Regions from separate parts of the Homo sapiens genome. Here region 1 is reported to be linked to region 2. Evidence: microRNA targets listed by miRTarBase, many of them from high-throughput screens and not tested one by one. Region 2 holds a microRNA gene; the other region holds the end of a gene's coding sequence.

Region 1 (5,369 bases), not on the chromosome of region 2:
GTCTCCAGTGGCTGGTGATGCTGCGACGGAAGTGGCAGCGCACCTGGCATCTTCTTAAGTGTGTTGTCTTTCATGAACTCGTGTGACCCCTCACAACATGCCTGTGAGACACGCAGGGCTAGAGCCACTCTCCCCATGTGACAGATGAGTGAACAGAAGCTCAGTCCAACAGAGCAGGTCTGGCTAGAATTCAGGTGCTTGACTGCCTTCCCTTTCTCCTTCCTCCAGGCAGGTCATGCCGGTGACACACTGCGTCAGGCAGGCAGAGAAAGGCAGCATAACCACTCAGCATAGCAGCTGCTCTGTGTATGCCTCTGCTTGGTGGTTTGCTGTGTGCCAATCTTCTGCTAAGCAATCACATCTTTCCCGTAATGTTGACAGCAACTCTCAGGGGTTGAGCTGAACCAACCTTTTGTACATATGGGAGCTGCAGCCCAGAAGGGTTCAGCCCAAGGCTCCACAGCTAGCAAGTGGTAGAGCTGTGTTGGGACCTAGCTCTGGCCCACCCTCTATGCCCACTAGTCCCTTGGTCTCAGGCTGGGGCAGGGGTGTGGAGGATGTTGGTCTTCCCTGTCCTCATGTCTGTAGAGTACATCCCCTCACCCCGCCTTCGGAGGGAGGCTGGCTTTCCCTGGAGACGGACCGCCACCTGTTTTATGAGAGGTAGCGGAGGCCTTATGGAGCCTCAGGGCCAGCCGCTCTGACGCATGGCTTCCTCTTGAAGATGAAACCTTGCTCCACCTTCTTCCTCCCTAACCCCAGGTGGAATTCCCAGAGGCCCGAATCTATGAGGAGACACTCAACGTCCTACTCTATGAGACTCCCCGCGTCCCCGACAACTCCTTGTTGGAGGCCACAAGCCGTAGCCGCAGCCAGGCTTCCCCCAGTGAAGATGAGGAGACCTTTGAACTGCGGGACCGTGTCCGCCGCATCCACGTCAAGCGCTACAGCACTTACGATGACCGGCAGCTCGGCCACCAGTCTACCCATCGCGACTGACCAGACCCTCAGGGAGTCAGGGCACGGGAGGCCCTATCTCCCATCCTGTGGAACCCGCCCCATTGGCCACCCCATGCTGCTGCTGCCTGGGTCTCTGCTCTAGCACCCAGAGGCATGACAGGCCCTGCTCAGAGGTCAGAGGGTCTGGGCAGAGGAGGGACCACATTCCCCTGCCTTGCCCCTGAGCACTTCTGGAGACTGCGTCCTGTCCTATCTGCTCACCATCACCCTTCCTGCCCGACGGAGCTGCTTCTGCTCCCTGGGGCATATGGACTGACCCACCTCCTGCTGAGAACCTTCCCCTAGGCCCTGTGCAGAAGGCTACTGCCCCTTAGGCCTCAGCTGGGGGAAAGGCAGTTCTGGTGCTGTAGAGGCCCTGGTGCAGAAAGTGGGACGTCTTTTTTCCTAAGGTGTTTAAGCACAGGCTTGATAAGTTTGGTTTTTAAAAAATAATCTAGGAAATGAATAATTCTAAATCTAGTAATGAGGAAACTGAGCATTTCTTTTGCCCTCCAGGGTGCCAAGACCCTACATATGACAGAACCCTTGGCCCTTCTCCATGCCTGTGGGATCTGTTTCTTTAAAGCACTTTGTACTGTTATTCAGGAGGTTGATAATCTCCTTGACCCATGTCTTTCTACCCTAATCCCCACTTCCCTGCAGAATCAATCTGAGGGAGGGGATAAAGAGGAAGCAATAAAAAAAAAACATCCGACAGAGCAGCTCTGGCTTTGCAGCCTGGCCAGCAGCTCAGAGTGCACCGAGGAGGGAAGGATGGCTAAGCTGGGACCGGCAGTCCTCACAGGGTGCCTGTGAGAAAGGACATTTTACCCCCACATCATAGTCACATCACTGACTCCTAGGTCTAGCACGACTGCTCTTTGTGATTCTCTTGAGTACCCTTGGCTTCCAGCCATGCTGTCCTCACATACGGTAAAGCCAAAGAGCTGTCACATGGGCCAGAAACATGAGCCACGGCAGGAAGACCGTGGAGCCCGTGGGCACTGCATGGTGTTGGCTGGCATGCCCATCAGCTGAGGACAGCAAACTCCCAGCAGCCCCTACAGAGGTGGCACATGCTTGGCCACACATCTACTCCCTGCCCACACCATCTATGCTCTTGGTTGGTGCTGGCTGGGATGGCGGTTCTGCCCAGTGGTGTCTCTGAGCGCGGGATGACAGGAGCAACCGAAGCACCCTGAAGGCCTTCACTCCTTGTTGGGTAACTCAGCCATGGAGATGCCAAGCACTAGCCAGGAGGTGAGTTCCTCTTTAGGGCTTTGGTTTTCATTCCTTTTTGTTTGGCTTGGCCAAACCAGAATTCAGCTTATCTGAATTATTTTCCAAAGGAATGCTGTCAGGGAGGGACTGTTCTGCCAGCCTAACAAAGCAACGTAGCCACGTATAGTACCCACTTTCTGCTCTTTGGAGAGAACACAGGTTATCAAGTTCATCTCTCTTGACTACTCTTATGATAGCTGATGCCACAGAGCCTATGGGCAAATGCCAGACCCAGGGTTAGACACAAGGACCTGAAGTGACATGACGGCGGGACAGGGGAAATGTGACTTTCTAATTAGGCATTTTATGTTAGTCACAGTCTTGAATGTATAAACAGCACTAAGACTCTCAGGTCAGGTACCTTGGTGATCAGCTACTAGTTCTTCCAGCCCTCATTGAGGTAACAAGATAAAGACAAATCCACTTCTTTGGCCAAATTCAGGCTTTGGCTTTATGACTTTCCCACAGAGACTGGAATGCGTCAGCCTGAGACCACTGGCCTATTTTCTCAGCTGCCCTCTTGAGGTCCTTTAACACTCAAATTCCCAGCTCCCCACTGAGGTGTTGTGATGCTTGCCTTTTGACCTCCCCATCCCCTTTAGTCCCTGCTTACTACTTTGACATTCACATCCTCAGTGTCTCAGTCTTTTTTGCCGAGAAAGCACAGTAGTCTGGGACTGGGCATTTATCTTCTCTGACTGAAAATCTCTCCTTGGTCTTAAGGAAAATACTAACATTGAACTCACTGACATGATCTTAGCTTCTTTAATCAGACTTTGTGACTTAAAAGTTTGGGGGTTTTCTTTGAAAGTTTCCAGCCCTATTCAGAAAGCAACTCTTGGCTGTGTGCATTTTTCAACTCCAAGCAGCCCAGGGGTAAGTAAACAAAGTATGGATGAAGGTCAGATTTTCTTGTCAGTTTCTGAGAAACCTGGCAGCCTGCTGTTAACAACACAGGCCAGTATTGGGTTTTATTGAATTTGGTATGTGACCAAGGTCGGCCTAAAGGATGGCGCAGGTCCTGGGCAGGAAAGAATTTTTCCTTTATCACATAACTGTAATATTTGGTTGCTCAGCATAAGTGATGGAAGCAAACACTAATTTCTAATAAAATTGTGTTAAACTCAATGGTACAGAGCCATGTTTACAGTGAGCAGGCCTTGACCAGCTTGCGGCCATGGGCTGAGTTCCTGTGCTTCTGTTTATCATCTGACCTTGTGTTCTAGCCAGGTCGTAAGCGCGACTGTACTGTTGCCCTGCAACCCCAGCTCCCCCTGGAGGACTAAGGACAAGAATAACAAGGGCTGGAACTGTGATTTAATATTAATTCAAGAAAACTACCTCTAACAATCACTGCAGTGGCGGAGGAAAAGAAATCCTAAGAATTGGGGCAAGATGCAGCACAATTCATCTCTGGCTCTTGGAAATCTGAGAGAAGCTCAGGAAGTAGCTTGACTTAGTCATCAATCCATACCTAAAGCTGCTCCTCAGCCAAATTCCTGCATTTGTGGTCTGGATGCTTGGCAGAGTCATGCTGAGGGCTGGCACACCCATTGCTCCAGGAAACCCGACTGGCTTGCCTCCCTCCTCTCCTGGGCCTAGCGAGGCCAGAAATGGCAATGGTCGGTCAGTGCTAAGAGCCAGGCCACTCCGACCCTGACACTGGCCTCCCTCTCTGCATTTGGCAGAAGGTAAAGTGAACAAGAGTCCAGTCCAGCACCCCCGCCAACTAGCTGAGAGGCACAGTGACCCTAGGAGATGTCCAGCCAGCCTCCAGGCTGAGAGGGAAACAGGCACATGCCCTACCAGGGGGGCAGCTCCCTGGAAGGGCAGCAAAGAAAGCAGTCAAGGGCGCACACTGGGTCAGAAGGGGAGCCTGAGACTCTGGGAGCAGAAATGGCAAGGGTGGCCAAGCGTGCACTGGTTTACTGATCAAACCTCACGTGACAGGCCAGGAAACTCCTCCAGGCCTGTGGCAGCTGAACACAGTTCCTTGGTGGAGAGGTTTACTGGAACATGGTGTAGGCAGGGCTTATGAGGAGGCCAGCCTTGGAGGTGTCCCACATGGGTCTTCTGAAGAAAAGTTATACCACCCCTCCCCACAAAAAGAACCCCACAATCAAATTAAGAGACCCACTGTGGCCCATGATGGGGAGAGAAGAGTTCTGCAGCAATTGTGGGATGAGAGTTGTTCTTCCCGGTGACCAAGCCTGGGCACTTGGGGCCTCAGCTGGCCTACCAGTGAAGGCCTGAGGGTGGTGTCTTCTCATCTTTATTGCTTTCCAGGGAGAAGGGAGGAATCCGAACATCAAAGTGGGAGCCATCAGGTCTTTCAAAGCGGAACGTGCCCCTACAGTCAGAAAGAAGCTGGTTTAGAAGGAGCCAGGGCTGAGGCCTCCTAAGGATCTGGATGGCCCCATGCCCTCAGCTGCCAGCCACAGAGGACATGTGAGCCTGAGCTCTCTTCTATCTCTAGCTCATGACAGGATGACTGGTCCAGAGACCCAAGAGCCCCTCATGGTTATCCATGAAAAGAAAAACACAGCTGCAGTGGCTCACGCCTGAAATCCCAGCATTTTGGGAGGCTGATGCCAGCAGATCACCTGAGGTCACCTGAGGTGGGGAGTTTGAGACCAGCCTGACCAACATGGAGAAACCCCGTCTCCACTAAAAATACAAAATTAGCCGGGCGTGGTGGCGCATGCCTGTAATCCCAGCTACTCGGGAGGCTGAGGCAAGAGAATGGCTTGAACCTGGGAGGCGGAGGTTGCAGTGAGCCAAGATTGTGCCATTGCACTCCAGCCTGGGCAATAAGTGAAACTCCATCTCACAAAAGAAAAAAGGAAAACACAGCTGTCCAGATTCTGGCCTTTAGATACATACTGCATAAGCTAGCCAACTGCATTTTCAGGTAAAGGAGTGAAACACCAAGGGAAAAAACCCAACTATACAAGCAATTCTGCAGCATCAAATCACCAGACCTCTTTAGCCTAAGTCCTCAGTCCACAAATCACAGGGTACTGGGAAACAGGCGGTAATAGAAAATCAGACAAGTCCCACACAACAATATAGCAGATAAGGCTCCCTCT
Region 2 (5,369 bases):
TGGTCTTCTGTTTGTTCTTTTTGGCAGCACAATAAATGTGTTTGTCATTCGCTGAGGACTATTGTGGGTGGAGGAGCGGCAGCTGCCTGGCTAACTCCTATAACACGGCACAAATCCCCAACATCATGATGAGGTGGTGGAGAACATCTGTGGACCAGAAGGGGAGGGAGATGGCACTCAGAGACAGTTCTACAAGGGTAAAGCCAACTCAACAGAAGAGTTAACTCAGGGGTCTTCATAAAATTCCACACATTTTAGACAAAGTCGATTTTGTTCATCCCTTGGGGATTCTGTAGCTCACATTTATCAGTACAAAGAACCTGACAGATAAACCTAGGTTGTGGACCTCTGACAAATAGAAATCAGTGATGGTGCATGGTACTCTAGGGCTTTCAGTGTAGAACTTAAAAACGATGAGAATCTAGGATTGGAATTTTAAAAGTTGATTTACATGATTCTCCTGTAATGATGAGAGCAAAATCTGTCTGTGAGATTATTAATAAGTGAACTGTCTTACCCCATCTCCTCATGTAGTTGCTTCCTTCTTATCATTCAGGTGAGATCTTGGGTCTTAGCTGAAATGTTTCTTCCTCTAAGGGGCTTCCCTGGCTGCTCTCTAAATCACGTCCCCCATTGAACCCCAAATACTCTACACATATTGGCAAGGGAAGGGGCCTTGTCTGTCTTGTTCACGGCAGTAGCCACAAGACCAGTTCCCAGTACAGTCATCATAATCATGGCTGACCCTGACTGGGTGTTTGCTGTTTGCTGGGCATTGTTCAGTGCCCTTAGCTGTAATTAAATATCTATACCACAGCCATGTAGATAGGGGCAATTATTAGCCCAATTTCACAGAGGAAACTAGGGTATGGAGGAGGGGTGAGGTCATTGCCCAAGGTCACTCAGTTAATAAAAGACAGAGCCATAACAAGAATTCAAATATTTGTTGAATGAACAGATCACTGAAAATCTTGTTCTGTAAATGTTGGAATCCAAGGGAAGCCATCTGGGGATGGCTTTACTAAGACTTGGGGAAGTGAGGTCCAGTTCTGCTTCATCCGATTTACCTTCGGTTCCTCCCTCTCTTCAGAGTTCAGGGGCTGGTCAGAGGGAGACCTCTTGATCTCGCCCCCTCTGCGCCACTCAGGTGTGCTTTAAAGTATAATTTTCAATCCTTAAAAGTTTTGCCGGGGCCAAAGTTAAGCTTCTCTTAAAACACTCTCTGCCTTTTAACAGCATAGCCCCACGAAATCCCAGAAGTGTCTCTTTTCCTTACCTGAGAAGCTATAGAGACTGGAAAATCCCCTGCCTGTAGTGAGTAAAGAGAGAATGCAGAAAGTTTAAGAAAAGATCATGGAAAGGAGAAGTCTCAGAGTGATGTTTCTACAACACAAAACCTGGCTGGGGGCTGCGGCTCACACTTGTAATCCCAGCACTTTGGGAGGCCCAGGTGGGCGGGTCACTTGAGGTTGGGAGCTCGAAACCAGCTTGGGCAACATGATGAAACCCTGTCTCTACCAAAAATACAAAAATGAACCAGATGTGGTGGCACGTGCCTGTAATCCCAGCTACTCAGGAGGCTGAGTCAGGAGAATTGCTTGAAGCTGAGATCACGTCATTGCACTCCAACCTGGGCGACACGGTCTCAAAAAAATAAATATAAATAAATAAATAAAACACAAAACCTGACCACAATCCTCCCCTGATTAAACCATCAGGTGCTCCATTGCCTTTCAGACAGTTTATACTGGGGGTTTACAAAGTTTCATCTCACAACGCTTTCTCTCCAAAGCAGGGGTTGGTAAGCTTTCTGAAAAGAAAAAAGTAAATAGTACATTTTGTCAGCTTTGCAGGCCATCCCATCTCTGCTACCACAAATCCACCTGTAGTTGCAGTGCACTGCTGTAGACAATATCTACATGAACGAGTGTTGCTGTGTTCTAATAAAACTTTCTTTAAAGGCACTGAAATTTGAATTTCATATAATTTTTTTTTTTTTTTTGAGACAGAGTTTCACTCTTGTTGCCCAGGCTAGAGTGTAGTAGCGTGATCTCTGCTCACTGCAACCTCTGCCTCCCAGGTTCAAGTGATTCTCTGGCCTCAGCCTCCCAAGTACTGGGACTACAAGTGTGCACCACCACTCCCGGATAATTTTTGTATTCTAGTAGGGACAGGGCCAGGCTGGTCTCGAACTCCTGACCTCAGGTGATCTGCCCGCCTTGGCCTCCCAAAGTGCTGGAATTAGAGGCATGAGCCACCATGCCTGGCCCTGAATTTCACGTAATTTCTACATGTCACGAAATATTGTTGTTTTGATTCTTTTTTTGAACCACATAAAAACGTGAAAACTGTTCTTAATTCCCAGGCCACAAAACCAGGTGGCACCTGGGCCTTGGCCCTTGGCCATAGCTTGGTGACTGTCCTCTAAGATAGAGCCGCTACAGCTTCCCGCCTTCCCACAGGTTTTGCCCACCCTTCATGTCACACTATCCTTCAGGTCTCACTTGGAGATTGTCAGCAGAGCTCTTCTGCAAGCCCTGTACTAGGTTGAATCCCTTTGCTCCATTCAGGATGAATATCCCTTATCCAAAATGCTTGGGACCAGAAGTGTTTCAGATTTCAGATTTTTTTTTGGATTTTGGAATCTTTGCATTATACTAGTTGAGCATCCCTAACTGGAAAACCTGGAATCTGAAATCTAAAATGCTACAATGAGCATTTCCTGTGAGCATGACCTTTGAGCATCATGTGGGTGCTCAAAAAGTTTCAGATTTGGGAGCATTCGGATTTTGGATTTTCACATTAGTGATGATCAACTGTGCAACCATGGCACCAGCCCACTGTCACCCTCCTTAACAGTAATTTCTCTTTCCCTTAGTGTCTAACATCTCTCTCCTTGCTAGACAGTAAATCCCTTGAGGACAGGGCCTGCTTGGGTCACATTTATTTCTGAAATCCTAGTGCCCTGCCAGGCCAGGCAGTGCTGGATACTCAGTAAAGGTTTTTTGACTTGCACATGACATTCTCATGACATCTCATTTTTCCTTCCTTCCTTCCTTCCTTCTTTCTTTTCTTTTCTTTTTTCTTTCTCTTTCTTTCTTTCTTTCTTTCTTTCTTTCTTTCTTTCTTTTCTTTCTTTCTTTCTTTCTTTCTTTCTTTCTTTCTTTCTTTCTTTCTTTATTTCTTTCTGTCTGTCTGTCTGTCTCTCTTTCTTTCTTCTTTTTCTTTCTTTCTTTTTTTTTTTTTTGAGACGGAGTTTCGCTCTTGTTGCCCAGGCTGGAGTACAATGGCGCGATCTCAGCTCACTGCAACCTCTGCCTCCCAGATTCAAGTGATTCTCCTGCCTTAGCCTCCCGAGTAGTTGGGATTACAGGCGTGCCCCACCAAGCCCAGGTAATTTTGTATTTTTAGTAGAGGTGGGGTTTCACCATGTTGGTCAGGCTGGTCTCAAACTCCTGACCTCAAGTGATCTGCCCACCTCGGCCTCCCAAAGTGCTGGGATTACAGGCGTGAGCCACCGAGCCCGGCCCCATGACATCTCATTTTCTATTATTATTGTTCACTGCATGCTCTGTTTGGAAGCTCAGCACTTCCTGATTCTTTGGGGGTATTTGAATTTAGGGTGCAGTTAGAACTTTCAGAGTAGATAACAAACCTCAACTCCTTCGTTTGGCTTGAGCTGTTCCCCACCCCTGGCTGGAAGACTCCAGGAGCAGGTGAAGGTTGTGCCCACAGGCACGACTGGTTTGGCAATTCAGTAAAAATGCTCAAACCGGCTGTGCCTGTGGACGCAGCCCAGCGTGAACTCAACCGTTTGGAAAACAGAGGAAAACAGAGACGCTTACTCCGCAGGGAGAGCTCCACGACCAGGACTCCCCCGGTCTGGTCTCGCAGGAGGCGCTTCCGTTTATCGCAGGTCTGAAGACCCAGAGAGGCAGACAGGAGAGAAGCGGGGAAGGTGGGATGATGCGTGAGCAAAGGGGAGAAAAGAGAAAGAAAAGATATTTTAAAAAGGTCACAAATGGGGTGGAGTCACAATTCCCCAGTCAACAGAGATGAGTTACCTTTTTAAAAAATAACCCAGAAGACACACTGTTCATCCCTTCTCCAACTTGAATACAAAGAGAAAGCTTTACTTTGTTAACTCTTCAAGCCAGAGGGAATCCTTCTGGAAGAGGTCATTGAGTGTGGAAGGGATTGATCCCATTTCCTTTGATAAGGCTTCTACTTACCACTCTCACCACAATAATTAGAGAAGTGGACACTTGCAATTGTATTCTGGTTCATTTTCTTTTCTTTCTTTTTAAAAATATGGCATTGATACTTATCCTTTGATCAACTGTACAGTGTCTCTCCCCTCCTCTCCCTGGCTCTGCACTCTCTGGTTTCTTTCCCTTTTGCTGTTTGTGCTCATAAAGAACCATTTTCTGGCCAAATGAAACAACAGCAATAGAGATTATGACCTTATTTTTGTTGGTTACTATAGGCTATGTGGATAGCAGCCTCTTTGGAAACACCGAGGTCTCCAGTTGAAAGAGACCAGAAAGGAGAACAGTTTGAGATTTGGCATGTCTAAGTGTCTAAGTGGTGGTTCTCAGGCTTGAGTGAGCACCGGCATGACTGCTGGCTTGTTAAAGCACAGCCTGCCCAGGCCTTCCTCTCACGTGGTCAAATCAGCCATGATCCAGTGTCGGGAATTTCTGCAGCATCTCTCTGAAGTCACAGAGGTGAACCCTCGGGCTGTTCAGTCAAGACTAAAAACACCCACCTTTTGAGTTATTTCCACGGCCTGTCCCTGCCACCTAGACCTTGAATTTCCCTTGCCCTTTTCACTTCTTCCAAGTATTTCCAAGTCTGTTATCACTTTCATTTACCTACACTGCCCTCTGATGAGGGAAGGGCCATCATTACTTAACACACTTTGCTTAAGGATGAGAAAGCAGGTCCCAGCAGGTTAGGCGACACATGCCAGACCATGTGGGTTGTTGGAGGCAGGGCAGATAGGGCCCTGAGCATCTGCCCTCACGAGCATCTGCCCTTATACTCAGTGCCATTTCCTCCAGATGTCCTCAGCACACAGCTGCCCTGGCCTGGTTATGATCTCCCCACTCAAACTCCAGCTCCTCCAATACTGGCACCCTTTAGGTAACATTGTCCTTCTGGAGAGAGGCAGCTCACCACTGGGCAGGAGAGTTTCTCACTGTCGCAGATGAACGTCTCACAGTGTAACCACACCTTGGAGAGTTTGGGGATGTTCTGGAACCGGAAAGCATTGAATTGGAAGGTTGCCCTGTGATCTCTCCCATTCTCATGCACGAGGACGGTTTCATCCGTGGGGCAGCTGAGGCAGATGGGGAAAGAAGAGTGAA

The links. The annotated mature microRNA hsa-miR-6715a-3p reads CCAAACCAGUCGUGCCUGUGG and lies in region 2 at 3,730-3,750, opposite strand. An mRNA with a match to its seed (bases 2 to 7 or 8) in the 3' UTR can be bound and repressed. Matches are read on the target gene's strand: a 7mer-m8 pairs with bases 2 to 8, a 7mer-A1 pairs with bases 2 to 7 and ends in A, and an 8mer does both.
Region 1: miRTarBase lists POLDIP2 as a target of hsa-miR-6715a-3p. Seed matches in the 3' UTR shown: 7mer-A1 at 4,213-4,219.

Annotation. Positions count from the first base shown.
Region 1 is chr17:28,343,602-28,348,970 of GRCh38, forward strand. POLDIP2 (DNA polymerase delta interacting protein 2) reads right to left here. Exons shown (of 11, transcript NM_015584.5): 11 at 3,032-4,630. The coding sequence ends at 4,516. TNFAIP1 (TNF alpha induced protein 1) reads left to right here. Exons shown (of 7, transcript NM_021137.5): 7 at 763-3,408. The coding sequence ends at 999. LOC124903963 (a long non-coding RNA gene) reads left to right here and starts at 4,629. Exons shown (of 2, transcript XR_007065687.1): 1 at 4,629-4,728. RefSeq lists enhancers at 587-1,090, 1,594-2,097.
Region 2 is chr10:112,298,041-112,303,409 of GRCh38, reverse strand. MIR6715A (microRNA 6715a) reads right to left here and starts at 3,798; the gene lies at 3,720-3,798. TECTB (tectorin beta) reads right to left here. Exons shown (of 11, transcript NM_058222.3): 8 at 5,179-5,341; 9 at 3,846-3,918; 10 at 1,277-1,309; 11 at 1-147. The coding sequence ends at 98. It overlaps MIR6715B (microRNA 6715b), which reads left to right and starts at 3,722; the gene lies at 3,722-3,798. RefSeq lists an enhancer at 745-1,039.